Regions from separate parts of the Homo sapiens genome. Here region 1 is linked to region 2. The links come from fine-mapping of genetic effects on plasma protein levels. A gene starts in region 2. The other region holds a variant in brackets. All regions are shown on one strand. Distances are from middle to middle.

Evidence for each region. PIP is the posterior inclusion probability: the model's chance that the variant is causal. Protein levels are from antibody-based Olink assays in UK Biobank. Linkage for the fine-mapping came from a reference panel and not from the study's own genotypes, which makes the PIPs less certain.
Region 1: its variant is fine-mapped to the plasma level of the ITGA6 protein (UK Biobank, PIP above 0.99).

Annotation. Positions count from the first base shown.
Region 1 is chr2:172,269,897-172,285,831 of GRCh38, reverse strand. It overlaps LOC107985960 (a long non-coding RNA gene), which reads right to left. Exons shown (of 6, transcript XR_001739773.3): 2 at 4,952-5,095. Among named protein-coding and RNA genes, the nearest start is that of ITGA6, 150 kb to the left of the region's middle. RefSeq lists an enhancer at 15,312-15,885. The variant T/C (reference allele first, on the strand shown) is at 9,686.
Region 2 is chr2:172,412,457-172,427,858 of GRCh38, reverse strand. It overlaps ITGA6 (integrin subunit alpha 6), which reads right to left and starts at 273. Exons shown (of 26, transcript NM_000210.4): 1 at 1-273. The coding sequence starts at 70. RefSeq lists a silencer at 246-325 and an enhancer at 11,698-12,199.

The sequences.
Region 1 (15,935 bases), 140 kb after region 2:
TGGAGGGACAGCAGGATTTGAAACCAGGCTGATCTGACTCCAAACTACCCGACCTCACCCACACCAACAGCATGTTGTGCCAGCAGCCTTTTGTGCCCCTGTGGAAGAGCAGGATAGGGGCACTGCACAGGTTTCATTCACTGGAAGGGAGAACTTCTTGCCCACAAATAAGCACCTTGGACTCAGCTAAATCCAGAGAACTCTTAGTCTCACCTAATCCAAAACTGCTAGATTTCAAATCCCAAAGGACTCATTTTGCCTCTCAGCAGGCCCAGCACAGACACGTAGCCCTGACAGTTTGCACTGAGGATTCCAGATTCCAGAATGGAGCCCAGCTGTGCAAAGCCACTGAAGCTGTGACTGGCAGCCGCACTCACTGACCTTCTCAAAGGCCTCTGTGCTCCCAGGCCTGGAAGAGCATTATTTTAGGGATAATGGCTGACAGCTGCTGCAGCCTCGTGGGTGCCCAGCCCCTGTCCACCACATCCTTAGGAATCTTGGTGGTTCCAGGCTTTCTGGCCCAGAGTAACCAGCTACTGGAATCCTGGAGTTACTTCATTAAACTGGTTTCAAGTTACATGCTTTCTTTTATAGGACTGGGGGGAAATGAAACCTGCCAGCCTATTGTCTGTGCTGTACATAACCACTTCTTTCTTGGTGAAATTTCTCCCAGCTCCTGTGTCCCCATCCTGAGTGCAGTAGGGAAGTAGCAAAAGAATTGGTTTTGCCAAATAAAGTTTAAAATGTTGGCCAAGACCAGTGTCGTGCCCCTGTTGCCTCAGCAACCAAGCTGAGGCAGGAGGATCGCTTGAGGCCAGGAGTTTGAAGCCAGTCTAGACAATAGAGCAGGACCCTGTCTCTACAAAATATTTATTAAAAAATTAGTGGCCATGGTGGTATGCACTGTAGTCCTAGCTACTCAGGAGGCTGGTGTAGGAGAATCACTTGAGCCCAGGAGTTCAAGGCTACAGTGAGCTATGATTGCACCGCTGCACTCCAGCCTGGGGAACAAAGTGAGACCCCATCCCATAAATAAAACAGTCTCTACTTTCTGAGTATTTTGTTCCCCACTGCACTCTTGCAGGCTGAGTGTTTCATCGAGTTCCACAGTGCCTTTGCATATCTTATGCATATCTAGAGGACAAGACACCATAAGAGAGTGCCTCCTGTTTTCAGTTTTTGTCATTATCATTAGCCTTCCAATGGTCAACTGCCAAATAGGCCACTTTGAAGTAGGTTTGCCCTCTTTCTCTCCTTTTTTAAACTCAGATGTGCATAGGTAGAATGGCTGAAATGACTCTTTAGAAGAATGTGTTCTTTCCATGCTAAATGCCTCAGATCTCAGCTAATCTTGCAGAGCTGGACAGGATCTTTGAACAGGTTAATGTAGTGGTTGGGAAAATCTCCCCCTGGGGAAATTCCTCAGTCCTCTGACAGCCAGCATCTGCGCAGGCGAGGGCACATACCCCTTTGGGGCAGTCTTGGAGTGTTCTCCTCCCTTGGTGGATTCACAGAGTGCAAGGGGTACCACAGAAGGAGCTGAAGGCTCCTGTCACTCTCCCATAAAACCCCTCCACCGATGCAGCATGGGGCATGACATCATTAGGGGAGAAGATGGGAACGGGATGATTTGGATTCAGGCAACTGGGGTCAAATCCCACCTCCACTGCTCACTCGGTAGGCAACATTAGTATATCCCTGAACCTCTCTGTGCCTCAGTTTACACATCTGTAAAACAGGAATAATAATACCTGCTGCACAATATGGCTATGGTTTTGTAAATGATACAGCACTATTATCCATAATAGTAGTAACCTTAAGGAGATGCTGAAGACTCTTTTCAGATTTGTCCCAGTGCTTACATCTACTACATTTAAGGGGAGTAGGTTTGAAGATAAATTTCATTATCCTTGTCATCACTGATACCTTCATGAGTCAAGCACCAGAAGTAGACTCGGCACCAGATGAAACATGGTCATCAAAATTATCCCTGAAAGGCCAGTTGGTCAAGATATTTCAGACATCAAAAATATGCCCCCCGGCCCCACCCCCGAGGCCTCAGCTGCATCACATTCCTTCACTTGGACCCGCCTGCAGACCACACAGTATCTCAGGGCAATTTCACACTCTCTCTACCGACTGCCTCTTGCTATCTGGATTGCACACTCAGGCAGCCTGATTCCTGTCTGGTCAACCACATAGAAACCAAGGGAATGAGAGCTAATGTAATTGGTTGAAGTCATTTCCAGAAATATGCTATTGGGGACATATCGAGAAGGTATCTGGGTTCTAAACAGGAAATCATAATAATCAGACTAATGCAGCATCCAAATTACTTCAGGGAAAACAATTGTTACAAAATCAAACTACAGACATACCAAGCTCCTCATCAGAAATAGAAAGAAGCTTCCTTTTTCATTACACCTCTTTTTTCCAGCAAATTTCTTGCTCATTCTAGAATGAATCTTGACTATTCACAATCCCTATCATTGTTCCTGAAATAACACCCTCATTAATTATGCCTACTCTGAAATACAGTTTAACCTGTTTTATAGTTAACAGCAGCCTTAACATACAGTCCCAAGTGAACCGTGTAGAGAGCCTCAGAATTACAAACGTAAAGTGACGGCAAAGGAAGAAAATATATATGCCTTCTAACTGACTCAGAAATGGGCTTCCCACACCCCCTGCAGTCATGTGCCACACAGTGACATCAGGCAACAACAGACTGCATGTATGATGGTGATGCCATAGGATTAGAATAGAGCTGGAAAATTCCTATCCCCTGATGACATATTGATGATCCTGACCCCGATGATTAAGCCCGGGCTAATGTGTGTGTAGTTGTCTTAGTTTTTAACAAAAAAGTTTAAAAGTAAAAATAATAATAATAAAATTTAATGAAAAAAATGTATAGAATAAGGATATAAAGAAAATATTTTTGCATAGCTGTATAATGCCTTTGTGTTTAAAGCTAAGTGTTATTCCAAAAGAAGTTAAAAACATTAAAAAGCTTATAAAGTGAAAAAGTTACAGTAAGCTAAGGTTAATTTATTATTGAAGAAAGAAGAGTTTTAAAATAAATTTAAGCCAGGCACAGTGGCTCACGCCTCTAATCCCAGCACTTTGGGAGGCCAAGGCAGGCGGATCACTTGAGGTCAAGAGTTTGAGACCAGCCTGGCCAACATGGTGAAAGCTCATTTCTACTAAAAATACAAAAATTAGCCAGGCATGGTGGTGGGCAACTGTAAGCCCAGCTACTAGGGAGGCTGAGGCAGGAGAATCACTTGAACCCAGGAGGCAGAGGTTGCAGTGAGCGAAGATCATGCCACTGCACTCCAGCCTGAATGACAGAGTGAGACTGTCTCAAAAAAAGTAAAATGAATTTAGTGTAGCCTGAGTGTGCTGTGTTTATAAAGTCTACAGTAATGTACAGTAATGTCCCAGGCCCTCACAATCACTCACCACTTACTCACTGACTCACCCAGAGCAACTTCCAGTCCTGTAAGCTCCACTTATGGTAAGTGTCCTTACAAGTATATCATTTTTTATCTTTTATACCATAACCTTCTCTATGTTTAGATACACAAATACTGATCATTGTGTTACAACTGCCTATGGTATATTCAGTACAGTAACATGCTGTACAGTTTTATAGCCTAGGAGCAATAGGCTATACCACACAGCCCAGGTGTATAGTAGGCAGTACCATCTAGAGCTATGCAAGTACACTCTATGATGTTTGCACAAAGAAATCGCCTGACAATGCACTTCATAGAACATATCTACATTGTTAAGTGACACACAGTTGCATTTCAGCACTCCATGCCCTACTTCTTTATATATATATTAATAGCTTCGAGGGAATGGGTAGTCATTTAGCATTAATAAGCAATGAAAAGTGGAATCTTTTTCTTGTTTCAGAAAGTGACAGTAAGCAGTCTAGAAAATGTGGACAAGATGGAGGAAAGGAAAGAGTGAAGGGAAGAAGGGAGAGTAGAAAGGAAAACCAAGATAACTTTCCTCATGTCCTGAATCTGATGAGCTCAGACTGTCTGGCACATGCCCTTCAGGTAGGTGATAGGGCAGTGTTGGGCTGATTCTGGGAAAACTCTCCTCTACAGAACTCAGGTGTCTTTAATACAGTGTAGTCCATTTTGTTCTTTTTTCTTCTGTTTCTTAGCGATGGGTTTGCCTTTTTAGGGGTTGGCTGGAAACGAGTACATTATCATCGACCACTGACAAAGCAACAGGAGGACATCTTCTGTCCCTGGGCACACGCTGGTTACCCATCAATCACTTTTTATTGACCTTGAACTAAGATCCATAAATTCAAAAACTGCAATTTAAAAATTTTATAGGCAAACTAATGGAATATCAACTTCTACAAGGCTGATTCTTCAATAACACACTTGAAGGACATAGTCCCCTGCCAGGGATGGAGCTCTGTTTGCTGATTTTTCACTAAGGGAAGGGAGGAAGGAACACTTAGTGAGCCTCCAGTGTGTGCCAGGCACCATATGGGGTGCTTTACATATATGATACCAAATCTAAGTTGCCACCAACTGTAACACGCCCAGCAGGAAAGCAAACCTACTGCCGATTAATTGAAAGATGCCATCCAGGGTGTATTTACTGGGAAGCTAAGAGAGTTTCAGCCTCAGGGCCCTTCATTTGCATGGGCCCTTCCAATGTTCTTGGAGAGGGGCCAGCAGTGTGTTCACGTGGCCATATATTTTTGTAAAATTTGCAAAAGATATTTTAACTGCAATCAATTAGACCACTGTCTCTTTCCACTCTGACTTCCCCTCTGTCACACTTCCCCTTATGTGGGTGGCACTGGAGTGGCTATGGGCAACTTGGGGATCCTATTAAAGGGGAAGTTGAGCTGGGGATACATTTAGTCTGGGTTCAGTGGGACGTTTGTATGTGGTCTGTGCAGTTAACTTACTGCTGGGCATGCTGGGATAGAAATGGCTTCACCGCTTCTCCCCTCCACCACACTAGCTCTCCTGGCAGTAAGAAGCTCCAGTGCAGGGCTCCAGGCTGTATCCAATATAAATACATCCCACCACACTCGCCAGCAGCATATGGCCTGGGCAGCAGAAAATAAACAAGGTGTGAAGTGTGTGAGCCAGAATTTGGTCTGTGGAAAATTTTCCCAAATCTCATAGTTCATATAGGAAAGAAACTTCATAGAGGTTTTCCCCAAATTTGACAAAAAAAACTCTCAAGATTTATATGACATTACCAAAAACAGTTGTGAAGCTGGAAAACACACATTTTACTGTTGATAGTAAAAAATAAATTTTCGTCAACCATTGAGAAGGAAGACTGAACTGTCTATTCTCTCTATAGAAAACAGACATAACGAATTCATTGTCATACAGCCCACTCCCCTCCAAAAATGCAGGGCAAAGAAGTATAACAGAAGTGGGCCAGGCAGTTAATTTTTACAAATATTATGGTATTTTATGTTGTTTGTGATTTATATCACCTTTTTAAAATTTGTGGTTTGTTGTGATTTTCCCATTTAAACAAATATTCATGTTCTTACCTAATTTTGCACGTATTATTTTCTCTTTTTTATAAAGGTCCCTGAATAATATAGAGTTCAGGCCCCATAAAACTGGGGTTGTCTAGACCCCTGGATGCCATCCCAATATCAGAGACCTTTCTAATGTATGGGTGGAAATAAGAACCTTAGACCTGATTAAATACATAGCAGGTATTATTTCCTTAATTCCACATAACAACACTGGGAGGCAGGTGTGTCATTTTACAGATGAGGAAACTGGGCTCAGGAAGTTGGAAATTTTCCCAAAATTACTGCCATGGCTACATTGGCAATATTCAAAACTTAAAGCCACAAAGTGAGGCCTGAACTTTTTGAGGAGCCCTAAAGTTCCTCTATCTCCACTGAATTAGTAGAATGCAGAATCAGGATTAGAACCAGACTTTTTATCTGAAACCTTGAAGCCTTACCACAACACCTCTTTGGAAAAGAACTTCCACTACCTCCTTACAGAAATTTATATTTCCTGTTAATCCTCCAAAAAGGTATTTCATTTTCATCCTTATGTGTAATTTTGCAATTAAATGACTATCTTCTGTTCAGGAGTTTTAGGGATTTTAGAAAGGACCCATCCCCAAACTCTGCTCCCAATTGCTGTCCCCCGTGCCCAGACCAATCAGAGAGGACTTTGCCATTAGACACCCTTTGAGTTAAAACATAAAAGCTCCTTCCTCTCAAAATGTATATGTATACTTAGAAGTAGAAACTCAATGAGGAAGCTATTCTTCATCATTAAGAACTTAACAAGAATGTATATTTCAAAAGCACTAACACCGCAGGATTCCTGGGGGGAAGGCGTTGTAGTGGTGCTGGCAGGGTCTGTTTTGTTATGGAGGTGGGGCAGACACAGACGGTCCCAGGCAACCAGAAGGCAGCAGTGCTGTAGCCATTTCCACCTCCATTCTACCTAGCACACTATAGTTATTAAAAACTAATCAGGCCAGTGCAGTGGCTCAGGCCTATAATCCCAGCACTTTGGGAGGCCGAGGTGGGTAGATCGCTTGAGCTTAGGCATTTGAGACCAGCCTGGACAATGTGGCAAATCTTGTCTCTGCAAAAAATACAAAAATTAGCTGGGCTTGGTGGCGCATGCCTGCAGTCCCAGCTAGTCGGGAGGCTGAGGTGGGAGGATCGCTTGAGCCCAGGGGGCCAAAGCTGCAGTGAGCCAAGACTGTACACTGTACTCCAGCATGGATGACAGAACCAGACCCTGTTTCAAAAAAAAAAAAAAAAAAAAAAAAACGCTAATCGGTTAGTTCCTGGTACAAAACTTCTCCTGGCCATTAAGCTGGCACCACTGAATCCAGTATTTCAGGGGACTACATACAAGCAGTCCCAGTGGGGACTTTCCATCCTTGCAGATGTCATCACCGACACCAGCCTGAGCTCCCTGTCTCCCTTTGCCATGATTTATGGGGAGAAAGCTGAGGTTTAAGGCAGAAGTTTAATTGGCGGTCCACGAAACTGCTTGAAATTTGTTGCAGGAGTAAGATGAGACTGCAATTCTTAAGGGAGACAGTCAAATACTAAAGGGATTTATGAGCTCCCCAAAAGTTTAAGAACCACCGTTGTAGAAGAAAAGCACTGAAATAAAATTAGTACAAGTCTCAGAGGGAGGCTGATACCAAAAACATAGTCAAGTGATGTCAGGTGGTGCGTGTGTAGGTATGTGGATAAGAAAAAGTTTGTTACGTTTAAGTGGTGTGCAATGTTTTTAACTTGCTAGATAATCAGTTAAGAAATTCTGGTTTTTATTAAATCATTAAAATAATTAGTTAATATTTTCTCTCTTGACATGCCTATATTATATACATAATACTAGAGGATTCATCAGACTTCCATTTTTAACTTACTAGATCGTTTTATTTTTAATAATACAACTGAATGAGAATCCTATTTTTGGCTCCAAGTCAGACTATAAACAGAAAATATTGAGCTGCAGAGAAATCACCTTACCACAGTTTCATTTTGACCTTCTATTCCACAGCCATTTGTTTAATACATTTTGCTTTGTGTTTAGAAGTGCATTATTTATTATCTGAATTAAGCTGTAATTTGTTTCCATTAATACAAAAAAACGCTCTGCCAACTCAACCAGCTTCTTGTATCAATGAAAATCATGATCTCATTAGGAGTTGCTTTAAGAAAAAATGCAGCTTTTTCTTTTTTTTTTTTTTTTTTTTTTCCTGAGACAGAATTTTGCTCTTGTTGCCCAGGCTGGAGTGCAATGGCGCAGTCTCAGCTCACCGCAACCTCCACCTCCCAGGTTCAAGCAATTCTCTTGCCTCAGCCTCCCAAGTAGCTGGGATTACAGGCATACACCACCACGCCCTACTAATTTTGTATTTTTAGTAGAGACAAGGTTTCTCCATGTTGGTCAGGCTGGTCTCAAACTCTTGACCTCAGGGGATCCGCCCACCTCGGCCTCCCAAAGTGCTGGGATTACAGGCATGAGCCACTGTGCCCGGTCAGCTTTTTCTTAAGAAAGCAGCTTCTCTGCCCGACCTTCATCTTGCTTCCTTAACCCATCTCCCTCTGGATATGCCAAAATGCTTCCATCTCATACTTCTGTCCTGTTGGGTCCTTCCAATCCTTGACCCACCACCCCACAAACCTAATTTGGGCACCTGAGTCAGGGCTTTCCAGTTTGTGTCTTTGAGAGAAAGGATCTGCCCTTAGCTTGAGAGAAACTGTAACCTGGAACAACACGCCCTTTAATAGGGATGTTTGTTCAGCGTTGGTTGCACATTCATCCAAACCCACTGCACAGCTCCCTTGAGCACCACCTCTTGAGAGGGTTTGTTAGACTTATTGCAAATAAATGGACAAAGTTTTCAAGAGGTAGCATTTCTTAATTTCCCAAATGGTTGGGTTTGGGGTTTGGTTATTTGAGGCTTGTTTATTCTTTTTTATTTCTACAAAGATGATTGCCCCTCTCTGCCCCTCTCCAGCCTTCCTGACCACAGCAGACCATGTGATGATGTGAAAGCAGTTAAGCCCAAAATGCTTGACATCATTCCCATATTTGGGGACTTTCCCACCCTAGAGGTTCTTACCTCCCCACAGCTGAAACCAGAAAACTGACTTTCCCTGATTCCCTTGCAGCTAGACCTCACCATGTGACCCAGGCTCTGCCAATCAGATAGTCTAACAAACAGCTTCATTTGGAATTGAGGCCATGAGCAAGCCAACTGTGCAGAATCCATTTGCTAGAAAGGGTGGCAGTAGTGTGTCCAGATCCTAGGGGCAACAATGGCATGAGCTGTGCTGAGGGGGTCTAGACTTGGAGGCAGCTGCAGAGACCCTTTCTGACTCACTCCCAGGGTGTGGTTGGTTTGAGCCTTGTTCTGACCTGCTGGCCTACAAGCCTGACTTTCTGGCCCTCTAGAAATTTTGAAAGTATCTTCATATCCTCTAATAAACTCCTTTTTCTGCTGAAACGACTGCAAATGGGTTTTGGTTTTGGTAACAGATCCTTGATGGATACAATGCCCACGAAGACCTGCATGGTCTCCAGCCAGCCTGCTTCTCCTATTGGACCTGTTAGTGTTCTTCCCCTCTTACTGGGCCCTCGTCTTCTCCCCCAAGGAGTTAAGTTCTCTCCTGCCTCAGCCTTCGCAGGTGCTGTTTCTCAGCTGGGAATGTTCTGCCCCTGCTCCAACCCTGGCTCCCTCCTGAACTCCAAACACAGCTCAAAACTGACTGGGTTAAGTCTTCCCAATACACCCTCCTGGCATCCTAGACTAGCCCTGCTTGGTACTCATCACAGTTGAAATTAAATACTTAGTTGGTTAGTGATTTTCTCTCTGAAGAGACTGTAATAATCAAAATAATAACATTTATTGCACTCTTTCCAAATGCCAGGAAGACTTCTAAGCACTTTACATGGATCACCTCATTCCATCTTCACTAAAACCCTAACGAAAGTATTATTATAAAACCTATTTTACACATGGAGAAACTTAGACCGAGCACTTAAGAAACAAATCCTAGGCCACACAAAAAGTATGGGCTGGAGCCAACATCAGAACCCAGAAAATCTCACACTAGATCACACTCTTAATACCATCTGTCATCTCTACAGTGGGTGCCTGCATCCCAGAACTTGTG[T/C]AAAATAAGTTATTGGAAGGTGAGAAGAAAATATTAGAAACTTATATAGATATATACATTTGTAACTCCTCTGGATTAATTTATTTTGCCTGTTCATTTTGTAATGTACACAAATCATTTTACTTGATGTGCATAACATAGCAATATATTACATAATTTATAAATAAAAAACAGAGTAGTTCAGCTCAATGTTTTTCCTATAGGGATGTAAAATGACTAATGTTTGGAGACTACTGCTCTCAACTATGAGCTTTGTGAAAGCAGGACTGTCACTCACAGCACCTCAGCAGCTAGCACAGAAGCCTGACACATAGCTACTACCTGATAAATATGTGTTGGCTGAATACTGTCCCTTCTAACACTGGGAATGCCAGCACCAAAAGAAAGAATGCTCCAATGTCCACTACATAAGTTCGTTCAGGTTCCCGATATTTCTGTGTCTGTGATGACTTCCTTTCTTGCTCCTTCTCAGATTCTGAATCCGAGACATGATGTTTTCACCCATGCTTGTAGACTCGCCGCTCCCAGCAGAGAATAATGTTCATTTGAGCAAGAGGCAGCAGCAGCCCCCAGGCAGCCTGTGGTTCCTGGATTATTTTGCACTGACCCGCTGTCATTGCTAGTGAAGCATAGGTAGGGGATTGCTGGTGCAAGGTGCAGCTCAGGGACGTGCAAAGCCACTTGTGGAAACTCTGCCCACCCCTGTTCCTCTTTCTGCCTCTTTTGACCTGCCTAACTAATTTGAGCTCCCCATTTCTCTGCAGATACAAAGACTCCTGAAGGCTTGGGAGGGAGCGAGGACATGGCTGAGCAAGGAAGAAAGGGAAGGGGACAACAGGATTTTTATGAAGGAGTGAAAAGGAAGGACAATTTGAGAACATGACCTGTCTTCCTTCTCTGACATGGAGGCTGGTGAAAGTGAATCATCACTGAACAAATTCTTGCTAAGTTAAAAACAAATTAAAATCGCCATCTAATGTGGGTAAAGAGATGCAACTAGCTAACTGCGTGGGTGTGGATTTCCCACATGGCCCCTGAAAGCACTGCTTTGGACAGGGCTCCTACCCCATAAAGCTTATTTTTCAGTCATTTTTAGAACTTGCATCAGTTCAACTGTTTTTAGATAGGTTTGTGGGTTGTTTTTTCTTTAAAAGTCTACACAAAGCAGCCTGTGGAAATGTCAGAGGCATGTGAACCAGAACAACTCCATCTTTAATAGGAGCTGGGTAAAGTGAGGCTGACACCTACTGGGCTGCATTCCCAGGTGGTTAAGGCATTCTAAGTCACAGGATGAGATAGGAGGTCAGCACAAAGTACAGGTCATGAAGACCTTGCTGATAAAACAGGTTGCAGTTAAGGAGCTGGCCAAAACCCACCAAAACCAAAATAGTGACGAGAGTGACCTCTGGGCAGCCTCACTGTTACACTCCCACCAGCGCCATGACAGTTTAAAAAATGCCATAGCAACGTCAGGAGCCCTATGTGGTCTAAATAGGGGAGGCATGAATAATCCATCCCTTGTGTAGCATATCATCAAGAAATAACCATAAAAATGGGCAACCAGCAGCTCTCGAGGCTGCTATGTCTATGGAATAGCCATTCTTTTATTCTTTTACTTTCTTAATAAACTTGCTTTCCCTTTGCACTGCAGACTCGCCCTGAATTCTCTCTTGCACAAGATCCAAGAACCCTCTCTTGGGGTCTGGATCGGGAACCTTTTCCTGTAACAGAAACATCAGACCTAACCACCAAAGAACATTCCGGTTAGAGGTTTACAGGTCAGGGAGCTGAGCCATGTGAAGACGCCAGCAGCTGTATTTGCAGGCACAGGTGTGGCCCTTTGCAGGGCAGCCACAGAAGGTCAGCCTGACCTGTGGAAACCATTCCTGGGGCTAACAGAGACCCATGGACCAGTCTCCCACTGGCAGACTCGCTATCAGTCTTTCTTGTTAGACCTCCACCACCTTAATGCCCATGTGGGTGGCATGGGGGATGCAAACAGCAGATGGGCTCAGTCTATTGTGCTGCACTCTCTAGACAGGAAGTGGCAATTAACTGCTGCAGAGTGGGACTGGTTGTTGATAAAGGCCCCTCCTACAGCTGTATCCATTCTGTGTTCAAAAACAAATGAACTACCCCATCCACGTCTTCTTTGAGGAGACAGCTCTGAAGCTGGCCTCCTCCAAGGGGCCACCTGCCAGACTCTTCAGAGGCACAGTTCTCCTTTATTTAAGGCATATGAAATTTGATGGAAACATTCAATACATATTTAAATTTTTATTTTTAATTGACAAATTATATATATATTCATGGGGTACAATGCAATGTTTTGATATATGTATACATTATGGAATGAGTAAATCAAACTAATTAGCATCTCCATCACCTCATCTGCTTAGCATTTTTTTATGGTGGGAACATTTAAAATCTACTGTCTTAGCAATTTTGAAAAATACAATTCATTATTATTAACTATAGTTATCATGCTTAATACATTTTTAAAGCTAAAGATATCTTGAAATCATTGTTAAAGTGACCATACTGTCCAAAGCAATCTACAGATTCAATGCAATCCCTAACAAATTACCAACATCATTTTTCACAGAATTAGAAAAAAGAATCCTCAGCCGGGCGCGGTGGCTCACGCCTGTAATCCCAGCACTTTGGGAGGCCGAGACAGGCAGATCACGAGGTCAGGAGATTGAGACCATCCTGGCTAACATGGTGAAACCCCGTCTCTACTAAAAATACAAAAAGAATTAGCTGGGCGTGGTGGTGGGCGCCTGTAGTCCCAGCTACTCAGGAGGCTGAGGCAGGAGAATGGCATGAACTCGGGAGGCTGAGCTTGCAGTGAGCTGAGATTGCACCACTACACTCCAGCCTGGGCAAGAGAGTGAGACTCCGTCTCAAAAAAAAAAAAAAAGAAAGAAAAAGGAATCCTCATATTCATATGGAAACAAAAAAGAACTCAAATAGCTCCTAAGCAATCCTAAGAAAAAGGAGTAAAGCTGGAGGCATCAAATTACCTGATTTCAAATTATATTACAAGGTTATAGTAACCAAAACAGCATGGTACTGGTATAAGAATAGACACATAGATCAATGGAACAGAACAGAGAACCCAGAAATAAAGCCACATACCTACAACCAACTGATCTTCGACAAAGTCAACAAAAATATACACTGGAAAAAGGACACCCTATTCAACAGATGTTGCTAGGAAGATTGGATAGCCATATGCAGAAGAATGAAACCGGACCCATACCTCTCACCATAGACAAAAATTAACTCTAGAAGAATTTAAGGCCCAAAACTAAAATTCCCAGACAAAAGCTTAGGAAAAACTCTTCTGGACATTGGCTCTAGGCAAAGAATTTATGACTAAGTCCTCAAAAGCAAACACAACAAAAACAAAAATAGGCAAATGAGACTTAATTAAATTAAAAAGCTTCCGCACAGCAAAAGAAGCAATCAGCAGAATAAACAGACAACCTACAAAATGGGAAAAAATATTTGCAAACTATGCATCCAACAAAGGGCTAATATCCAGAATCTACAAGGAACTCAACAAGAAAAAACAAATAGCACCACTAAAAGGTGGGCAGAGGACATGAACATTTTTCAAAAGAAGGCATATAAGCAGCCAACAAACATGAAGAAATGCTCAACATCGCTAATCATCAGAGAAATGCAAATTAAAACCACAATAAGATACCATATTACACCAGTCAGAATGACTATCATTAAGAAGTTGAAAAAACAACAGATGTTGGTAAAGATGCAGAGAAATAGGAACTTTTACTCTCTTTGTGGGAATGTAAATTAGTACAACCTTTATGTAAAACAGTACGGAGACTTCTCAAAGAACTAAAAATAGAACCACTATTCTATTCAGCAATCCCAATACTGGGTATATACCCAAAGGGGGAAATATCATTATATCAAAAAGATTCTGCACTTGTATGTTTATCACAGCACTATTCACAATAGTAAAGATATGGAATCAATCTAAGTATCCACCAATGGAGGACCGAATTTTAAAAATGTGGTATATACTCATATTCTCACTTATAAGTGAGAGCTAAACAATGAGAACATATGGACACAGGGAGGGAAACACCACATACTGGGGCCTATCAGGGGTTGGGGGAGAGGGAGCATCAGGATAAACAGCTAATGCATGCAGGGTGCTTAATACCTAGGTGATGGGTTGATAGGTGCACAAACCACCATGGCACACGTTTACCTATGTAACAAACCTACACATCCTGCACATGTATTATTATTCCACATGAGTGGAATAATAGACACTGGAGACTCCAAAAAGGAGGAGGGCAGGAGAAATGTAAGAAATCTGCACATGTAAGAAATCTAGCTGGGTGCGGTGGCTCAGGCCTGTAATCCCAGCACTTTGGGAGGCCAAGGCGGGCAGATCACAAGGTCAGGAGATCATCCTGGCTAACACGGTGAAACCCCGTCTCTACTAAAAATACAAAAATTGCTGGGCATGGTGGCATACGCCTGTAGTCCCAGGTACTCTGGACGCTGAGGCAGGAGAATCACTGCAACCCGGGAGGAGGAGTTTGCAGTGAGCCAAGATCGCGCCACTGCACTCCAGCCTGGGCAACAGAGCGAGACTCTGTCTCAGGGAAAAAAAAAAAAAAAAGAAAAAAGAAAAAAAAGAAATCTGCCATTATACTCACTAAATCTATAAAAATTAAAAATAAATCTTAAAAAGGTATCTTGAAAAACACTTTATAAAATACATTTTAAAAATATTTTCTCTACAAATATGTACTTGATATTCACATTTATTGCTATTGTTTGAATCTGCCCCAAAATTCTTGGGTGGAAATGTAATCCCCATTTGGTGGTGTTAAGAGAAGGGCTTCTGGGAAGTGATTAAGTCATCATGATATAGGAGTTAAAAAGAAATTATTTAGGCAGATAGTGAGGGTAAGGAAGTCCTCAGTAAGGTTTTCCTTTTAATGAAAAGTGCCCCCAAATCATTTTCTTTTCTAACAAAGAGCAGCCTGTAAAATTGAGCTGTAGACATAAACAAGGAAACTGGAAGCTTGCACAAGTGAATGCCCGTGGTTGTGCCAATAGAAGAAAAATGCTATCTGGGACTAGGCATGATCAAAATGGTGGCTCTAACTTCTCTTTGCCAGCCACATGTACAGTAAGGAGCAGACAAGGTGGCACCAGCCAAGTGGAAAGCCCATTTGCATCATAAGATTAGGGTGGGGATGACCGGCCTTCCCTGCTCCATATATAAACATTCCCAGATGGCTGAATAGGAGCAGCTCAGGTCTGCAGCTCCCAGCATGATCAACACAGAAGATGAGTGATTTCTGCATTTCCAACTGAGGTAACTGGTTCATCTCACTGAGACTGGTTGGACAGTGGGTGCAGCCCACGGAGGGCAAGCAGAAGCAGTGTGGGGCGTCACCTCACCCGGGAAGCACAGGGGTTGGGGGATTTCCCTTTCCTAGTCAAGGGAAGCCGTGACAGACTACACCTGGAAAATTGGTACACTCCCACAAATACTGGGCTTTTCCCATGGTCTTAGCAACCAGCAGACCAGGAGATTCTCTCCCGTGCCTGGCTTGGCAAGTCCCACATCCACGGAGCCTTGCTCACTGCTAGTGCAGCACTCTGAGATCAACCTGTGAGGCTGCAGCCTGGTGGGGGGAGGGGCATCCACCACTGCTGAGGCTTGAGTAGGTAAACAAAGTGGCCAGGAAGCTCAAACTCGGCAGAGCCCGCCACAGCTCAGCAAGGCCTACAGCCTCTATAGACTCCACTTCTGTGGGCAGGGCACAGCTGAACAAAAGGCAGCAGACAACTTCTGCAGACTTAAACGTCCCTGTCTGACAGCTCTGAAAAGAGCAGTGGTTCTCCCAGCACAGGTGTTTGAGCTCTGAGAATGGACAGACTGCCTCCTCAAGTGGGTCCCTGACCCCCATGTAGCCTAACTGGGAGACACCTCCCAGTAGGGGCCGACAGACACCTAATACAGGTGGGTGCCCCTCTGGAATGAAGCTTCCAGAGGAAGAATCAGGCAGCAATATTTGCTGTTCTGCAATATTTGCTGATCTGCAATATTTGCAATTCTGCAGCCTCCACTGGTGATACCCAGGCAAACAGGGTCTGGAGTGGACCTCCAGCAAACTCCAACAGACCTGCAGCTGAAAGTCCTGACTGTTAGAAGGAAAACTAACAGAAAGGAACAGCATCAACACCAACA
Region 2 (15,402 bases):
AGGCTGCGCCGAGCCGGGACAGGAGCCCCGCCGACAGGTAGAGCAAGCACAGCTGCCCGGCGGCGGCCATGGGCGGACGCACGGGGAGGGGAGCGGGGACCTGCAGCGGCCGCCCTGCGCTCCGGGCTGGGTCCGAGGCTGCCGCGCTGCTGCTACCGCAGCCACCTTCGCCTCCTCTCGCCGCTGCGCCCGGCCCCACCCCCGGGACGGGTCGCGCTCTCCGTCCGGCCGCTCCCCCTCGCGGGCAGCTCGCGACCGCTGAATGAGCCCGTTGTTCTCTGGAGACTCGCAGGCGTTTTATCAAGTGACGAGGACGCCGGCCCCGCCCCTCCCCACCCTCTCGCCCCTCCTTGCGCGCCCGCGGCCCGGCGCACCGCCCGCACCTTACCCGCCGGCTCTGGCGTCTCCAGCTGCCCGGTACCTGCCCGGAAGCCACGACGTGGGAGCCCCGGAGGCGAGCTCGCGGCGAAGCAGCCCCACTGCGCCGCCCTCTGTGGACAGAATTGTGGTTGCCGAGTAGCACAGAGCGAGGGAGACTTTACTACCCGTTATAAAGAGAAGTGCAGGTGATGCACCGGGCCTCATGGCCTGAGCAGCCTGTTCTTGCAGATGTGGGCCCACGTGCAGATGCATACGTCATTCATTCATTTCTACAGGTGTTTATGGAGCGCTTAAGGCGTGCCCAACACTTGGGGACTACAGCTGTGTAGACTGTTCTGGGTCCTCAAACACCTAACAACCCTCAAAAATGATCACAGCGCACACCTTGATAGTGCTGTATAATGTACACAACCCAGCCATTACCTCAATTCATCCTAACAGTCCTATGAGGTAGGTGTTTCTTTTTGCAGATCAGAAAACCGAAGTTCCGCCTTGTCCCCAGATCACCTAGGATTTTGCCCAGGTGACCAGGAGAGCTTGTGGAAGAAGTCACGCAAGTCAAGGATGGGTTGTTTAAAGTGGCGCCAGGAGCTCAGGCGACGATGCCGTTCTTTCCTAGCCCCGGACTTTCAGAACTAGTTGTGGGGAGAACTGCTGGGCCAAGAGACAGCTCCGAGTTCTGTGTAGGTGGCATGAAGGCTCCTGCCTCCAGGACATGAGGCGGGGCTCCAGTGAGGTGTTGGCCCTAGGGGCAACCTTATCCTGCAGGGGTTCTTAACCCGAGGAGAGGTAATTAATTCAAGAGTACTGTGAACTTGGATGAGAAAAAATTTACGTCTTAATTTTCACCAACCTCTGACATTTAGCACGTTTTGCCATTATGAACGTAGACAACAAACTACAGTAGCAGTAGGATAAGTATTTATGACTTAGTAATCACTAGAAACCATAGGTTTTTACATCACATCACAGTTGTTGCAAGTATCTCAAATAACAGTAGTTATTAGACAATCAGCCAGATATTATATGTCAATAATGAAGCATATATATTGCTCTAGCACAAATTTTTAAAAACATTTTGTTAGCTACATTTCAATATTATTGGCTTTTTTTGTAACCTCTTGTGGTTTCTTTTATGTATTTAAAACCCTTATTCTGAGAAGAACCCCATGGTTTTCAGCAGCCTGCCAAAGGGGTCCCATGGCATGAAAAGGTTGGGACGTGCTGGCCTGAAGCCTTCTGGAATGCCTTGGGGAGCCCTCTTTGGAATCTGACATCCCTGCATTGGAAATACAAGCAGGGTGCAGCCCCAGGAAAGAGCAGGAGCTGTGTGTGCATAGGGGTAGGGGTGGCCTCTTCTTCACCTCAAGGAGTATTCAAGAGAACAGCATGTGCCACTCAGAAAAGCTGCGTGAACATCATCAAGGGTCCCCACAGGTGGTAGCAGCTGTCAGAGTAAGTCCGTCAGTATATTAGGGGTGTGTACCACTTCCTTTCCAATCAGTAACTCCAGTCAATTATAGTCCAAAGTGGGGTGCAGTGGTTTAAATTCAGTAGATGATTTTGGAGAGCACACAGTTTTAACAAATATATCTTGATAAGGTTGAGAAACTATTGGAGACAATCTAGTAAACTAAGAAGTACTTGCAACGTGATTTTTCATGCAAATAAGTTGCAAGTTAGCCTTTTCCCTTCGTGTAAAATATGTACTATTCCAGAGAGATGGGGTCCAGACTATTATAGGCATAGTATAATGAACCTCACTGCAGAGTGTACTCAGCCAGGAGCTGGTGATTTGGCTGTAATGGTTACTGAAATATTCTGAATTGGTTGATAAAAGCTGCTGCCCTTAGTTCCTCACAGGCAACCATCCCTGCCCTGCCCATTTTCCTAGGACTAAGCAACTTCCTCACAACCTGGCAAATGAAAGTTTAAGCCCTTAAGCCCTGATGCAGCAAGGGCTCCCTCTGCTTGGATATCCCCATGTCACACCAGCTGTTAACTATTCTGAATATCACCCCTTGCTTCTAAGAGTAATTCTGTGGACCATTGATTCCTGTCTTCCCAAGATGTGTTTAGTGGATGATGTATGAATGGCCAGAGTTATTTACTTTATCCCAAACACAGATTGTGCTCAAATTGAAATTCTAAATAATATTAAATTTAAATATCACAACTACATGTATAGCACTACTGAAGCAAATTATGCTTGTGTGGGAAGAGGTTCAGATAAAGAAAAACAAGGCTGGGAGTCTTGTTCTGGAATATGTCAAGTGCCCATCGCAAATGGAAAACTTATTAGCTCAGTGCTCCTACCTGCCACCTGTCTCCTACCTACTTGAAGTTGAGTCAAACTCTCACTCTCAACATAGATGCCGAAGATACTTGAAGTTGAGTCAAACCCTCACTCTTGACATAATTTATTTGAAGATTGTCAGCTCCTTCTGACTATAACCATCAAGTTTTGGCCAGGCACAGTGGCTCACGCCTATAATCCTGGCACTTTGGGAGGCGAGGTGGGAGGATCACCTGAGGTCAAGGGTTCGAGACCAGCCTGGCCAAAATGGTGAGACTCCCCCCCACCCAACCCCACCACCCCGTCTCTACTAAAAATACAAAAATTAGCTGGGTCTAATGATGGGCACCTCTAATCCCAGCTACTCGGGAGGCCAAGGCTCAAGACTCACTTGAAATGGGGAGACAGAGGTTGCAGTAAGCCAAGATTGCACCACTGCACTCCAGACTAGGTGACAGAGCAAGACTCTGACTCAAAAAAAAAAAAGAATCAAGTTTTGTGACTCAGTTGTTATTTCCATTGTAAAACAGAGTTGGGTGTTTTACAAAAGTGTCTTACAAAAAGGAGGTTTAGAGGTCATTCTGGATCCACTGAGGACACATCAATCTCTGGGGCCAAAGGAATAAAAGAATTCAGAGCCCTAAAAATTAAAGACCTGGGGAGGGAGTACACAGTTTTAATGGGGAAAACAAAATCTGGGACAGGAAGATACTTGTCTGGAACCAAAGGGAGAGAGATAGCTTGGTGATAAAGGTGTGCTGAGTATATAGGGCATGGGGCATGTGTGTGTGTGTGCTAGCACACATGCCTATGAAAACAAGACATGCACAGTGCAAGAAGGGCCCTACAAATCCAGTTAACTGGCAGAACCGTGTCTAAAAAAAAAAAAAAAGGGCCGATTAGAAAACGAAATAACACATCACAGAAGAAACTTCTATAAACTGAACATTTTTAATTAAAAGGCAGTGAAAGCTATGCATAGAGGCATTTGCTCAGGTGAGAGCTTTTGAATTCTTATGTTTTACCAGTACACTTTTCAAAATAAAATTATTTATTTGTACTATATCCCACCCTCTGTAGAAGAGCTTTCAAGATAATTTTAGAATATTGGTCATTTATGGAGAAGTCTGAAGAATCCATGTCATACCTAATATATTTTCCATTCCCTGAGACCTACTTTAATCATTTTGTTATCATGTTCACTGTTATATTGACTTCATCATCACTAACAGCAGAGAATATATTTGCTTTTTTCATGCAACATAAAAACTAGTTATTAGGCCGGACGTGGTGGCTCATGCCTGTAATCCCAGCACTTCTGGAGGCTGAGGCAGGCAGATCACCTGAAGTCAGGAGTTCGAGACCAGCCTGGCCAACTTGGCGAAACCCCATCTCTACTAAAAATACAAAAATGAGCCGGGCGTGGTGGAGGTGCCGTAATTTCAGCTACTCAGGATGCTGAGGCAGGAGAATCGCTTGAACCCGGGAGGCAGAGGTTGCATTGAGCCGAGATTGCACCACTGCACTCCAGCCTGGGCAACAGAGCAAGACTCCGTCTCAAGAAACTAGTTAATGAAAACATCTCTTTATTCTCTTTCTGTGGTTACATTATCCCAACAGTTTTACATATTTCCTGGAGCCCTTTAATGTGAGGCCATCCATGAGAGTGGGTAGCACATGGTCTCTGGAACCCAAGTTCCTTATTACGGATCCTGCCTCTGCTCCACGCTAGCCACAAGGCCATTTAATCTCTCCATGTCTCCGTTTTCCCAGCTGTAAACCGGAAATAACAACATGTCATCTACCCCTCAGTAGTTGCTTTCTCTTAAGAATTAGTAGAGTTGATGTTATCTAAAGCACTTAGAATGTTGCATCAAAACCAGAGCTCCCACCTGTGTACAGTCTTTCAAGATACGGCTTTTATGAGCTATGCATTGACCACAATATAGTTTCGTGAACTAAACTTAATAAACTGTTCTGACTAGGGATTCTACTATTCAATGGCAGATTTTTTGTTCCAGAGAAAGAAACAGAGTTTTCCCATACTGTTTTTTTATTTGTCTTTTTATATTAGTGTTCAGAGTTTTCTCTTCGACACTGAAACTTAATGCTTTTGTGTTTAAAAAAAAAAGTGACATTTTATTCGCTCTAAGTCACAGACCATTTAATAGGGGCAAACCTGCCTTTGGTTGGGATCAGGAGACTCCATACTGCCAGCTGTTCCTTATTTTAACACCTAGATCTATTTTGAAGTAAATTGCATTTGAATGTTTCTAATTCACTTACAATGAGCTCATTAAAATGTAGAGTGTTTCACGTTGCCATTTTAGGTGGGCAAACTTTTTTCAAGTTTGTTTTGAGGGAATTTTTCTAAGCCAGGAAGCCATATTTTGCCAGCCAGAAATAAACTCCAACCTTAAATGAATCAAGTTAAATCTAAAACTGAGTCATAAGGCTGGGGTGAAATCCCCACCTGACAAATTTGGTTTTCCATCCCCACCTTCATTAGAAACAAACATGAAGCTATGTACATCTCATGCCACACGCAATGCACTCTTGAAAGACCAAACATGGGGTAGACATTTTAAAATTAAGTTCTTTAAAGAAAAAAATTCATTGCTTTCTATAAAAATATCTCCTGTGTTGGTGGGGTGGGGGGAAAGGCTGATTTTGAGTTAGGACTTAAGCCAGTGATCTGTGGAGTGTATCAGGTGAGATTAAGGCAAACACTCATGGAAGGCAGCTTAGCCTCACCTTCTTCCCGGCTGAGGGCCTGGAGCAAGTTACCCAACTTCTTTAGGACTCAATTTGTTTTTTTTAGAGTGAATCTCGCTCTGTCGCCCAGGCTGGAGTGCAGTGGTGCAATCTCAGCTCACTGCAACCTCTGCCTCCCGGGTTCAAGCGATTCTCCTGCCTCAGCCTCCTAAGCAGCTGGGATTACAGGCACATGCCACCATGCCCAGCTAATTTTTGTATTTTTAGTAGAGACGGGGTTTCACCATGTTTGTCAGGCTGGTCTCGAAATCCCGACCTCGTGATCTGCCCGCCTTGGCCTCCCAAAGTGCTGGGATTACAGGCATGAGCCACCTCCCCTGGCCTAGGACTCAATTTTCTAATCTGTAAAATAGCCAGAATTCTTACCTCATCAGGTTGTTATAAGGATTAAGTGAGATTATATAAGTGAAGCATATAGTACAATATCTACTATTAAATGCACGCTGAAATAAAATAGTAGCTGTGAAAATGTAGGTGAAGAAAGTATACTAGAAAATAAAACAAGAGAGGACTTCAAATAATGGAGATTAAACATAGGGAGAGGCAATATGCAAATGAGGTCACTTGTGCCCCATATTTGCGTCATTTAAATGGTCAGCATAAACCATTCCTTATCGTTATAGCTTGGCAAATATAGTCGTCCCTCAGTATACACAAGGGATTGGTTCCAGGACCCCTGCACATAACCAAAATCCATGCATACTCAAATCCTGAAGTCAGCCCTGAAAATCCACATATAGACAAAGTCGGTACTCCACATTCACCAGGTTCACATCCCGCAAATACTGTATTTTCAATCTGAGAGTTTTTTTTTTAAAAAAATCCATGTGTAAGTGGACCCCTGTGGTTCAAACCCATGTTGTTAAAGAGCCATCTATAATCTCTGTCATATGATAGTTTCCTGATGCCAAGGTCTGCATAGAAACAAGTTTGTGCTTCACTCTGGGTCTGAACCATTTCTGTCTTTTGCCAGGATTTGGAGAAGTAAGAGTGGGTCCTAAACTCTGCGTCCGCCGGAACTTCAGAAGAGACAAACAGTTCAGATGACAAGCTAGCTAGGAGGCCTGGGGAGAATAAAGAGACAAAAGCACAGGGACATTACTGAACACGTCCTTATCACAACCTGCTCAGCCAAAGAGAAAGTTAGCACTATGAATTATCCAAAATCACAGCCAACTTATCATTATTTTGTTTGGAGCTTCATCTTCTTGAATACATCTTGCTGCTAATATTAAAGCAGCTTATACTACTTAAAATAAGCTGACAGGATAGTTATGAGGACATGTCACTTGATAGGGAAATCAAATCTTGAACTTTAAAATTTCTTCAACATTTTTGAATCTGGAAAGCAAGTCATTGGAAGGTGAAAAGTAGTCACTATATTTAACAGGTCCCTTCTTATGGCACATTAACAAAACATTTGAAGCAATGCAATAAATTCTGCCCTGTGAACACACTACTCTATAGAACAAATAACAAAGAAAGGAGGAAAAGAACGTAGAAATCTGAACCACCTAATAGCCAAGAATGTCCCTATTGCAATGGCTTTGTTGTCCCAGATCACATGCCCAAAAGTGAAGGGCCAAACGTTTCTGCATTATACAACATATTTCTGAACTTTCCCTGGTGAAAAAGGAGAAAAATGGGTTCACAGATACTTATATCACATTTCATGTTCAAAAATCTTTTCAAACCCTAAAGTCAGTGCATCTCCACAAAGCAAAAGCCAGTGTCCTAATTTTATGTCTGGAGACACTAAAGCAGGGACTTTTCCTAAAAAGAATGTCAGTCTCTCTGACCAAATTAAAATTTGGGATTTCCCGACTTCTGATTTCATAACCCAGACCACTCCATTGAACCCTTCTTCAGCCTTGGCAGAGAAATTCTCCATGGAGACCAAATCTCCTGCTTCCCAAACAAGGAACTGTAGCAGTTTGTAAAGTGTGATCTTCAGCCAATGTGTTTTCTGGTGGGGAAAAAAACGTGTTACACCAGTAACACGTTGTCAGTTAGGTTGGGAAGTTCAGGCATAAACACATGCTACTTGTTCATCCTGCTTACAGAAGGATGCAAAGCACAGAAAGCCTACTTAGGGGGATTTGTGCCCCCACTTAATCCAATAAGCCACAGTGAATTTTTTCAGCCTTAGGCCCTACTAGGAAATAGAGCCTCCAATCCATTGCCCCAGAAGTTTACTTTCCCCAAGTAGCCAACCCACCCCTGGTTGCTGTTGGTTACAGAAACAGTTGGGTAAATGCCACATTGGTTGAAAAGGAGGTAAGAGTATGGGAGACAGTCACCTCTTTGATTTTGGAGGGCTTTTAGAATTTCCTAATTTATACTCTGTAAATAACCAAAATACATCTATTTCTCTGAGACTTTATGTGCTGACTACAGTCAGCTAGCAATGTCTTTAGTGCTTATAAACAGTTCTCATCTGTATTTCTAAAATAATTCCAATGCAGGGAAAATAATTTGAGAGTTATGTGTATTTTGAAAATATACTCCAAAGTTGAAACCTTTTCAAATGTTAATCAAAAGGATTTATAGCTATAGATTATACTCCAGCCATCAGCCACTTATGTAACAGTGAAACAGCAAAAGAACTAACATAGCAAACTCCATTTTTGTTTAAGGAGCCTTTAGCCTGCACGTAAGCTAGGATAATTTTGGAGCACTGAGAAAATATGCAAAAACAACAATCATGTAGTTTTTGCAACGAACTCTGGGATTAAAGGGAAAGTATGTAAACAATTAACTATGTTTTGTTAAAGATTTATAGGAGTGTTGTGACCTGACCAAGGACAGAGTTGTTCCCAACCTCCTCAGACCCTCATTGGCGTCCAGATGTCTGCGGTCGTTGGTCACCTCTTGATCCCAAACCTCTCTTCTTCCCTCTGTCTTTAACATAAAAAGAGCCTGAAATTTGTACTGTCTTAATATGGTACTTTAGAATGCTAGTCCACCATCTTCTTTGTTTACTGGATCTCCGAATAAACCTGCTTTTCCTCCCACCAACTCTTGCCTCTCAAGTTTTGGCTTTTGGGAAGCAAGTAGCAGAATCTAGGTTTGGTTACACTTACGATAAATTCAAAGAGGAAGGTGGGCATTAAGTAGACACTCTTTCCATCTGCCCCAGCTCTCCCTTCCTAGTCAACAGTCTGCATATCCCTTTCTCTTATCTCACACTGAGGGACACTGTGATTTATTTGCCTACATAGATGCCTACTATTAAATCCTTAGTTCCTTCAGAGTAGGGACCATGCCTTGGTCATTTTTCTATCCCTGATGCCAAACACTGGCCCTAGAGTACAGAAGCTACCAAAAAATCATGTATGTTACCAAAGGGTTTTTACCAATCATCATTTTTATGCCAAAAGGCTTCTTTGAAGTTGAAAGGATTTTTTTGTTGTTGTTATTATTTTTAGAAAATGTGTCATCCTTGTGTTACATTCTTAAAATGGAGCATACCCAATAGTGTACTTTATCCAAAGGGTACATGCTGTCTACCCAGATGAGTAATTCTCATGGAAATGAAAAACTGCATCAAGTCAGCTGATTAGCAAGGCACCATTTTGGACTCAAGGTCTCTGGTGCTATAATGCTGTCTACAATCCAAAGATATCGAGGAAAAAGTTAAGATGAGCTGCATAATCTAGAATGGAAATTCCTAGAGCAGGACTTTGGGGCGGTTGGAGGGAAAATGGGGAGAGAAGTGTAGATTGGAAAGGGGGCCATGATGACTGCAAATTGAGAAGCCCCTTGAACAAAGCAGCAGGGTTCTGGGAGGGGTAGATTCCATAAATTGGAAAATGTATTTGTTTCACTCTTTGGTCTACTGTGCCAAGATACTCATAAAGCTACCATCTTCAATGTGTCCCATCCTTTAGTCACCATACAAAGACATGGTGACATGAACTAGAAAGGAAATGGTTGAGATGATAGACTCCTCTAACCATTTCTCCCTCCACTGCCCAACCCACCCAATGGTAAATAACTGGGTCAGTCTCTGCACCCTGCCCTCTCCCTATTCCAACTGTACATATCCAGATGGTAAGAGGCTCAATGCCAGCAAGGTCTTCTCAGGAAAATATTTGGGAGAAGGCATGCATTGAGTATCATAGCAGACATGGCTAAGGTTTATGAGCTTGAAGAATACTATGAATGTGCCTTTTCATTGCAATGAAAATGAAAAGACTGAAGGAAATGGCCTCTGTTCACACCTGCAAGGATGATATGGTGTCCTTCAAAGCCACAACTATAGTGTACATAGAATTCTGGAGACATCGGAGATATGTGAAGGAGTATGGTTATAGTATGAGATGGCAGACCATGATGCAAGGAATGGGAAGAAGCATTCAATGTGTGAGTCCCAGAATTTAATACTTATGGGCTGTGTTGTTTTACCTAAACATCAATTTTCTCTGTGATTTATTCAAGCTTGACAGTAAAATTTCCAGCCAAGAGTTATCCATTTGAAAGCTAGGTTATTACTCCCAGTCATATATTCCATTTAATGGATCTCTCAAGTGTTAATGAATATTATTAAGTACTGAGTTCATGATAGAATTAAAAGCCATGGGCCAGGCGCCGTGGCTCACATCTGTAATCCCAGCACTTTGGGAGGCCGAGGCAGGCGGATCACTTGAGGTCAGGAGTTTGAGACCAGCCTGGCCAACATGGTGAAACCCCATCTCTACTAAAAATACAAAAAATTAGCCAGGCGTGGTGGTAGGCACCTGTAATCCCAGCTACTTGGGAGGCTGAGGCATGACAATTGCTTGAACCCAGGAGGTAGAAGTTGCAGTCAGCCGAGATCGCACCACTGCACTCCAGCCTGGGTGACAGAGTGAGAGTCTGTCTCAAAAAAAAAAAAAAAAAAAAAAAAAAGAAGTAAAAGCCATGTTGGTGGGGAGAAGAGCACCGACAAAACCAAATTTAGAGCCTATGTTCTAAGAGAAACCAAGCCTGGCAGAGAATATGGCATCTTTTGAATAAGGAATATGCCTTTTTTTTTTTTAATTTGGGTTTCTTTTCTAAAGAGTATTTTTTTCTATTTTCTTTTTCATTTTTGGGTAAGATATGTGAAAAATGACTTGATATAGAATACTGAATTATTTTTCTAAGGTCAAAAGAAAGTGTTTGAGGCAGATTCAAGATGGCTACAGATTTTTTTGATACTCCTCTCATTAAGAAGTGGGGTCTACTTCCCTTTCCCTTGAATCTGAACTGGACTTAGTGACTTTCTTGACCAATAGAAATTAGCAGACATGATGACCTGGGAATTTCAGGACTGAAATATAAGAAATCTTATGTCTTATTCCTAGGACTCTTGGGAACTCATTATTGAACCTTAAGCCACTATGTAAGAAGCCTAGCTTCCATGGTGGAGTGAATATGAGGCCACATGGAAAGGGAGAGGTCCAACTGAGCCCATCCTTCTAGCTGTCCAGGCCAAGACTGTGGAAGTAAAGCTATCTTGGAATCTACAAACCTGCCTACCCACCAGCTGAATAACCGAGTATCCCCAGCTGACACTAAATGGAGCAGAAGAACCACCCAGCCAAGCCCTACCTGAATCACAGACTCACAGAATTAAGAAGTATTTATAAAATGGTTGTTGCTTCAAGCCACTAAGTTTTAGGGCAGTCTGTGATGAAGCAATGGATGGTGTAAAATTCCCACAAGGGACTCTTCTGATGGTGGGTGTCAGCTTCTATTCAGAAGCTGACCACTTCCTCTGCCATTGTCACAGTGGGAGCAAGTCTGCAGTGCTAGGCCAGGGTCTACAAAGTGATTGAGTCATGCTTTTTGAGAAGTGAGATCAGTTATACTGGCTAAAAAGGGACTAAAAAGAGTTTTGGGGGTGATGACTTTATGGCTCCATGACTAATTCCCAACCACTCAATAATAGGTCCAAGGCATGTGCCACTGGGATAGGTTTTACACACTTCCCCCAAGCCTCTGGTTTAGGGTGGGGATGGGAGATAGCTAGAAACAAAAGCAGCTCTGTCTGACATCGTGTGGTTGGTGATCACTTCCATGGATCCACACGGTGCTCCCTGGCCCACTTCATCTTTACTTTAAAGAGTCTTTTCCAATCCTTAGTTCTTATTGGCGTTAAACATACCTATGATCAGAAAGAATTTGAAAATGGCACTGTAGAGTTTCTGGTAGGCAGGAGGGCAAGTCCCAAAGTGTCAATTCAATGTGGAGCCTACGAACTCCAATACAAGGGAGGCTTTCTACAAACTTAAAAGATCTTCTACCCAAGTCTCTTAGCCTCCCTCTTCATTAAAGATTTTGTGTTTTCCCCCCTCTCCAGCTCTAGTTTCATTTTGTGAAAAGGTTCACTGCCTTATGTGCCATGAGCAGACAGGCTTATCGAATGAACTGTAAATCTAATCAGTTTGCCACAGGGGTTTCATGGGAGCCATGTAAACAATAGCTGGAGTTGTGTTAAGCTTCAGTGACTCCAACTGATTCCCAGTTTGGTTCATTTGTGAAGAACAGTTGGAGATACAAAGCCAAGCCCATTAATTTCTAAAGAGCAATTCTAAGAGAGGAATGAGCTGTCGATCCCCAGAAGGTTTTCACTCCAAGCTCTAACTACAGGATTTTATTTATGGCATAACGTTTGTCTTCCAGTTACTGTTTCCTTCCATTTCTCCAATATTCTGTATTTCTAAGGAGATCCTGGCAACTCTTATTGAAATTGGAATCCTGTGGAGGAATTGAGCAGAGAACTTCTCCAAGTTCCTATGGTCTCTAAAATAGTGATCAAAGTATGGTCTTGGATCCCCCACCTGTGTTCTCTTTAAAATGTAATTGTGCCCTATGTTACTTCTGACAAACGGACTTAATTAGTTTCAGTTCTAGTTCTCATTCAATACTTTTACAGAAACACATTTTTGATTTGAATTTCACTCTCAAGACTATAAAGTTTATATAGTTATACTGCTGAAGTCACACCAGTTTTTAATCTCCTAAATTCACACATACTTAGTTTCCAGATGGAAAAATGAATATTCACCACAGCTCTATTAGGAATGCCAATTTCCCATCAGTCCCTAGCATTGGGCAATGCAGTTATAATACTGTGTTAATTTCAGACATCTTCTGGTCCTCCGAGCCTTGTATTTACATACTAGCTGAAACTGCAAGTGGAAATGAATGGAGCTGATGATATTTGCCTTATCCTAATTTTTCTGTGAGGAGGAGAAAAACACTTGTGCTTCAAATAAGCAGATGTGAAAACACTTCTCACTAATCAAAATGTTTACCACTAGGTTATGAGAGTCTGCCTCTCATAGGCAGTGAATCTGATATGTATACTTAGTAATATAAGTCTATTTAGTTTGACAAAACCTTAGAGCAGAATTTTTGCAGCTTAGTTCAGGATGATCACTAGCAATGCCAAACTTCATTTTTTATTGAACTTGGATCCAAGAAGGCCTGCTGTGTCTATTTCAGTATAGACTCTCATACCAATATATTTATGCTCCAAGTCACTACACCCAGAAGTGATGCAGTGGGGGAAATGCAAAGAACAACATCACTGTAAGATTCACAGAATGATCTTTGTAAAATATTTTATATTGACTTAAGGAAACTTTCATTGGAATTAATTAAATTAAGTCTCTAATATTCTGGAAGACAGTAAAAATCAAGCAGTTGTTCTCAATTTGATCCCGGCAGTTGGAAATATTCATAATAGGAAATTCATGAAATAATACATATGAAGATGACAGAAAATTACCAATGTGATTCTGTAAAGAGCTTGGCATAGCAACTTGTCTAATTTCTTTCTATAATAAAATTATGGCCACATAGACTGATAGAAAGCGACTAGGAAATCCATCTGTATTTTCGCATGTTCTCGCTCATATGTGGAAGCTAAAAAAGAGTTGATCTCATAGAAGTAAAAAGCAGAACAGAGGTGACTGAAGGCTCGGAAAAGTAGGGGGAAGGCAGCCATAGGGAGAGATTTTTAAAGGATACAAAATTACAGCTAGATAGGAGGAATAAATGCTGGTGTTCTGTATCAGTGTAGGATGTCTACAATCAATAACATATAGATTCAAACAGCTAGAAAGAGGATATTAAATGTTCCCAAAGCAAAGAAGTGATGTCTGACATGATGAATATGGCAATTACCCTATACCATGATACATTATATGTATTGAAACATGTCTGTTATATGTACAATTATTGTCAATTTAAAAAAATAAAATTTTAAAAATGGCTTAATAAAAAGACCACTGTGATTGTAAAATTCACAGAACTCCGCCTGAAACTAGCTTAAGCTATATAGTTGGTATTCAACAAAAGGTTATGGAATTAATTGTGACAATGTAACTATTCTGTGGAGTATTTACCTTGTAGTAGATACTGTTCAAAACATCTTAGGTTGATTAATTCTTTAAATCCTCACAATAGCCTGTCTCACAAATACTCTTAGCGGTGCCATTTTATATACAAGAAAAGTGAAGAGCAGCGGGGTCACAAAAGCCCCCCCACACCATACAGCTCAGAAGTGTTGAAGCCAGGACTTGATCCCAGGCAGGCTGGCTCCAGAGCCTGTGCAAGCAACCCCCACTCCCAACCGCTTCCCAGAACCTGGGACTCTATAGGTTACCCATCAAGAAAAAGTATACTCTTTGACTTTATTTTGGTATGAGTTACAGTTTTGGCTTATGGATTGAACCCAAAAGGTAGCAGTGTTCAATGGGACAGTATCCACCTGGGATATTCAGAAGAAACTCCCATGGGGTTCATTTTTACAATCAATCTTATTTAATATCAGTATTTATTAGGTGGATAAAAAGCATTAGAATATATGCCCCCAATTTTTATATGACAATAAATTTAGTAGAATTGTTAATATTCTGGGAGATAATGAAAATTCCCTCTCAGAAAGTGGGGAGAATAGTTCTATGAAAACTATTCGGTTCACTTAAGATGTACCAGATATTTATCAATCACAATGCCTGATCAGTTGCTCCCAGCTGCATGTTCTTTGAATGACAATTTCACATGCCCAGCATGAAGAGGGACATAGGTGAACACCTGACCCAACGTGCTGGGTCACTCTTGAGCCTCAGTCACTCCACAGGCTGGAATGAAAAAAATGAGCTGGTCCTATCAAATCCTCACTCTTGGGAATTTGCTTTGGAAGACAGAATGACCCAGTTGGCAACCAGAACTTAAGTTGGAAAGTTACGATGTGGGGAAAGGAGAAGAGAGATCATTGTGGCCAAGTGCATGTGCAAGCCAAGGCCACAGAGAACAGGAGCTTTGAGGGAGCAGAGCAAGGTGGTCACTTTAGAGAGATGAATGAGATAGAAATGCGGAATGAAAGAGAATAGGGGAACGGGAGGAGACACACATGAATGAACATGAGAGGCCAGACAGTGGCCCTGTGCCAAGCTGCCAAGATTTCTGGTGGTGCTTGGTTCCATTGTAGTCCACAAGGACCCTTACAACAAGCCCCATGGCCTTAGATAACTCAAGAGGGTCTTTGTTCCTTGTGAAGAGAAAAACCTGATGCAAAAAGTAGATGAATAAAAATGGTTAACTTTTGGGCAGAATCCTCCCACCCAAAAATAAGTTGAGGAAATATTAATGTGGAAAAAGAAAAATGACCTAAAATTAAGAATAATCTACCTATGTGGAAGCATTGTTTTAAAAAACCAATATAATGTTGGCCTATATGAAAATGAATGCATTATATAAATCATGGATTTCAAAGAGCTAGGGGTTTTGTTTTTGCTCTTTTAAAATCAGATCTTACATAGCACACCATCTCATCTTAGTCATCCTTTTAAGAAAAGACATACGGCTTCTGACAAGGGTTCCAATAATAATCAAAATTATTAAGGTATGACTTATAAGTAAAGCCACAGGGAGTTTGTGCTATGTGGTCTAGAGAGAAGAAAGCTAGTGGTGAT